2 separate regions of the Homo sapiens genome follow, and region 2 is linked to region 1. The links come from fine-mapping of genetic effects on gene expression. Tissue or cell type: blood mononuclear cells. Region 1 holds a variant in brackets; the other region holds the start of a gene. All regions are shown on one strand. Distances are between the middles of the regions.

Region 1 (2,683 bases):
AACGGGGTCAGAGAAGTAGGACCGAGGAATGTGTGACTGGCAGCCCCAGGGCAAGTAGCTCCACATGGCAGGGCAGTAGGTGAGGCCTCAGGGGTTGGGGATAGTAAGGAACATTAAGGGGATGTTCATTCTCACCATGGGCTTTTATTGATTCCCAGTGCATATGTATGAAGACAACCTATGTAGGAAGGCAAGTCATGCCCAGCTACCATGAGCCAGCACAGGAAAGGCAGAAATGAGAATTGAGCCCTCTCCTGACACCAAATATACTGTTATTATTATTATTATTATTATTATTATTATTATTATTATTTTGAGATAGAGTCTCACTCTGTCGCCAGGCTGGAGTGCAGTGGCGTGATCTCGGCTCACTGCAATCTCTGCCTCCCGGGTTCAAGCAATTCCCCTGTCTCAGCCTCCCAAGTAGCTGGGACTACAGGCACGCAACACCATGCCCAGCTAATTTTTTGTATTTTAGTAGAGACAGGGTTTCACCATATTGGCCAGGATGGTCTTAATCTCCTGACCTCGTGATCCGCCCGCCTTGGCTGCTCAAAGTGATGGGATTACAGGCGTGAGCCACTGCACCTGGCCATACTGTTATTTTTACATTAAAATAGTGCAGCTGGGTCCAGGTCTCTGTAGTTCCACTGGAGGTGATGATATGTCTGATAATTATTTCTCTTAATTTCCCACAAAAGACAAAAAGGGTGAGACTACCTCCATAGATCCAACCGGGCAGATTACCAAGATTCCAAGCTCCCAGGCAGGGTTGCTGTGAACAGCAGGGGACTTTGGCTTTCTCTCAGGCCAGAAAATGTATAAAAATAATCAGTCCATTCCCAGGCCATTGTAGAAACCTGCCGGCTACTCTCATGGAGTGATCCAATCCTACCTGTAGGGTCACAGTCATGGTGCCCATGATATTCAAAGCGCTTGTACAATAAATGTTCCCATGAAAGATGAATGAGAAAGGCCATTTTATGAAGTACTGAGGTTCCCTTCACATGGTGTTCAAGTGGAGGCTGGAGGCTCAAGTCCAAGGCATTGCAGAAGACAGTTCCTGCTCTGGTTGAAAAGATTCCTTCCTGCTCTGAGAATCTCCAACTAGTTGCAAATCATCATTGACAAATAGAATGTAGGGAAGCGTTGTGTCATGAGACAAGCTGTATTTAAAGTCAACTCTGATAAAACAGTCCATCAAAAGAGACTGAAAGCTGACAGTCTTTTTGGAGCCAAAGAACAAAGAACATTTTGTGGCTCCTCTGTTGCTGCCATAAATGCTCAATCCCATTACTCTCATGTATGTTGTGGGTGTCGTCAGGACCTTCAAGCACTAGGCTTGACTCTATGGGGGACAGAGGATAACATGGCTCCTAGAGGAAGGAGAACTGGAAAAGAGGGATCTG[C/T]AATCATCGATCTGGTGTTGGAAGGTAGATGGCTCCATTTTGCTCTGAAAGGAAAGGGGTTTTTAGTCAGATTACAAGAATGTTTCCTCACAGCTCAAAAATAAAGTATGCAGTGTTCAGCAAAATCTGAGAAACAGGCATCGACAGTTTTAGCTTGCTTTGTCAAGATTCTCTTAGTACTTGACAAACTTTAGCTCAAATTTGTAAACTCTATAAGATAAAAAGCAGGAACTCACAGTCTGTATAATTATTGAGAGAGGGATGTCATTGTAAAAAAATTTTTTGTTTGTTTCACTATCATTTATTGGATTAGGATTAGTGCTGTACTTTATCTATAAAGAAAACATTAACAACCCATTAACTCTCTGAGCTGATTTTCTTTTCTTTTCTTTTCTTTTTTCTTTTTTGAGACAGAGTCTCGCTCTTGCTGCCCAGGCTGGAGTGCAATGGAGCGATCTTTGCTCACGGCAACCTCCGCCTCCCAGGTTCAAGCGATTCTCCTGTCTCAGCCTCCTGAGTAGCTGAGATTACAGGCATGTGCCACCACGCCCAGCTAATTTTTTTTTTTTTAATATTTTCAGTAGAGGCAGGGTTTCACCATGTTGGCCAGGCTGATCTCGAACTCCTGACCTCAAGTGATCCGCCTGCCTCGGCCTCTCAAAGTGCTGGGATTACAAGTTGTAAGCCACCACGCCCGGCCTCTGAGCTGATTTTCTAGTAAAAGGGTTGGTTTTACTTTGATCTAACAACATGCTTTTGTACAGTTATCACCTGAATTGGAGTTGAGGTCTATGTCTATGAAGGAAAACCAAACTTCTGGTCCACTTTGGGTTCAAAGCATGGTCTCATCGGTACTATCCTGTGATCAATTTGAGCAATTAGTGAAGCCAGAGCCAGGAGATAACCTTACCAGGCTCTATTGTAAGCTCTATGAAAACAGGGATCGTATCTGTCTTGTTCATTGTTATATCCCAGCAACCAGTACAGTGCCTGGAGCACAGTAGGTCATTAATGTATACTTACTGAATGAATTTATGTTATTCCACATTATCAAGAGCCTATATATCTCCTACTTCTCCTCCCCTTTTCCTTACTCTAAGTCCCATTCCCTGAAGGTATCTACTCTTACATATTTAATGTTTTGAATAATGAATTTACAAGGAAAAGGACTTTCATATGCTTGGGATGAAAGAATGGTGGTCAAAATGGGAAAACTGACTGAAGTCTTGAAACAAAGGACACTGCCCCAGAAGTCAATAGTAATTAATAATAAA
Region 2 (2,683 bases), 22 kb after region 1:
GCTAGGATTACAGGTGTGAGCCACCACTCCCAGCCATATGATTTAAAATTTTTTTATTTGTATAAATTTATGATGTACACATGCAATTTTGTTATAGCATAGATTGTGTAGTGGTCAAGTTGGGGCTTTAAGGTATCCATCACCCAAGTAACACACATTGTACCCATTAAGTAATTTCTAATCATCCACCCCCCTCGCCCTTCCAAATCTCCATGGTCAGTCATTCCACTCTCTATGTGCATGGGTGATTTGAAAGAACTCCTTCCTCTCATGTTCATCAGTCACACCTATGGTGGTGGCCAAGTCTAAGTTCTGGACACTGCCCACCAGTACCAGTCCTCAGCCCAGGGAGCAAGTGATTAGGGCAGAGAAGCCTGGTGGTTCTAGCCCATGGGCCCTTTCCCCTATTTGAGGCAACAGAAGGCATTTGCTTCCCCAGTGACTTGAGCTCCCCGAATAATGAAAAACTCTCCCTTCTACTTGATTAATACTTCTCACAGTCAGTAAACAAACCCAGAGCCATGGTTTTATCTTTCTTGGATCTTTTATTACAGGTAGGGCTTGTGTTGAGGAAAAACATAAATAAACCTGAACAATGGATCTACTCCACTGTTAATGCCCCTGAAACTCTGACTACATCCTCATGAGACTCTGGAAGTTAGAAAAGAGGAGAAACAAAAGTAAAAGAAAAAATATGAGCAGAAAAGAAAGGAGGCCATGCTCAGAGGGAAAGTGAGGAAGTTCCAGAGTCTTTCTAGAACGGCTCCCCCTCCCTCAGAAGGTGGTGACATCAAAATCCTACAAATATGAACTGGGAAACTGTTCAGGCAATCCATTGCTCCTGGAGTCTGAGTGTAATACATACACGTTTCTGCCCCTGGCTTCTATATTTTTCACCACAAGTTTTAGGAAGAAAAGCTGTGCCTTCTAGGCTGCCTCGACTTTGGAGTTAGGAGAGAAGAGGACGTGGGATACTCACGGGAATCGCTGTGCTTCACCATTAACACAATGATGAGAGGTAACAGGAACGCCATCAGTTCCCCCATAGTCCTTCTCTTTCCGGGTTCTTTTAACCAAAAACTGACAGGTCCCTTCTGAGAACCTCTTGGTGACACACAAGGCCTTCTCCCAATAAGAACAGGGGAAGATATGCAGTGTCATCAGTTGCTAGGTTAAAAAAAAAAGATAAAATGAAAGCATGAACACCTTCTTCGGTAACTTTTAAGTCTTTGCTGGTTTCAGACACTGCTTGCTCCTTTTGGTGTATCTATCTTCACCCTATTCCCAATTTTTAAATATTTATGGAGCATAGTCATGTTCAAAGCACAGAGAAACAAAGATTAATCATATCTGGTCAATCAGGGAGCTCAAGCTGCTGCCTCTGCTTCCCTGGAGCTTAGAATTTTGCTTAAGGGTCAGTAAGAAAGAGTCACAGTTCCCACGGCTTGGAACTCCCTGCTCTGGCTCCCTATGATGCTGAAGTCTCTGTCTGAGATAGCAGGTGTCACTTAGATTGTCCCGTAATCTTCAACTTAGGTCTGTCCTCCCTGCTACTCTAGCACCCAGCACAATAAGCTCAAAACACTTACTGAATAAAAGAAGGCAAGAGAAAGGCCTACAGAAGATTCTGAGGGGCAGCCACTCAGCTTGCTCAATCAGCAATCCCCAAGATCAAGCTGTGGCTACACTGTCATAAGGAGCACATGACAAGCTGGAAAACAGCAGCTTAAGCTTGTCCAGGGAGCTAGGGAACAGGCCCAGACAGGAAAGAGGAAGTAGACATGAAGGGGAGAGGTGAATGGAGGCATGGCCATGAGGCAGGCAGGCTTGAGCTGGGTTCAGGGACCTGGGTTTGCCTCCCCACTATTTGACCATGGGCAGAATCCCAAATTGCACCAAGGCCTGATTTCTTCAACTTTAAAAGCAAATCCTGTCATATATTTCACAGAGTTGTTGAAGGATCAGAAGTTCTGTTTATGATGCATTTAGTAGGTAGTAGAACCTTATGTACCGGTTGTATGGTAGGTTGAGAATTGTCGCCCCAAAGATGTCCACAACCTAATTGCCAGAACCTGTGGATATATTACCTTAAATGGCAAAAACAAAATAAAACAAAACAAAACCCTTGGCAGATATGATTAAATTAAGGATCTTGAGACAGAGAGCTATCCTGGATTATCTGGTGGACCCAGTGTAATCAGAGGGGCCTTATTAGAGGGAGGCAAAAGGGTCAGAGTCAAGGAGATGTGACAATGGAAGCAAAGGTCAGAGTGATGATGCCATTGCTGAAAGAAGGACATGAGCCAAGGAACGCAGATGGCCTCTAGAACTAGAAAAGAGAAGGAACAGATTCTCCTTAGAGCCTCCAGAAGGAACACAACACTTTGATTTCAGCTGATAGGACACATTTTTGGACTTCTGTCCTCCAGAACTTTGAAAGAATAAATTTGCATTGTTCGAGGCCACTAAGTTGGTGGTAATTTGTTATAGCAGCAACAGGAAACTAATAGGTCTACCTTTACCCAGAATAAAATAAGAAGCCAAATAATGAAATTAACATTTGGCAATCTCTCAGCGGCCCCTGGCACCTTCTCTTCTCAGATCTTTGTATTTCTCTCTTCCTTTCCTTTCTGTTTCTTTACATTGTTTTTCCTTTTGTTACTCATTTAACAAATACAGTCAC

What was found. PIP is the estimated chance that this variant, and not a neighbour inherited with it, causes the effect.
Region 2: it holds the start of MR1, and the variant in region 1 is fine-mapped to the expression of MR1 in blood mononuclear cells (TOPMed, PIP 0.95). The same link has a PIP of 0.9 or more in aorta.

The regions. Positions count from the first base shown.
Region 1 is chr1:181,053,995-181,056,677 of GRCh38, reverse strand. It overlaps MR1 (major histocompatibility complex, class I-related), which reads right to left. Exons shown (of 6, transcript NM_001385161.1): 6 at 1-1,453. The coding sequence ends at 1,413. Among named protein-coding and RNA genes, the nearest start is that of MR1, 21 kb to the right of the region's middle. The variant C/T (reference allele first, on the strand shown) is at 1,410.
Region 2 is chr1:181,032,371-181,035,053 of GRCh38, reverse strand. It overlaps MR1 (major histocompatibility complex, class I-related), which reads right to left and starts at 1,071. Exons shown (of 6, transcript NM_001385161.1): 1 at 980-1,071. The coding sequence starts at 1,046. RefSeq lists enhancers at 1,162-1,271, 1,402-1,501, 1,702-1,891.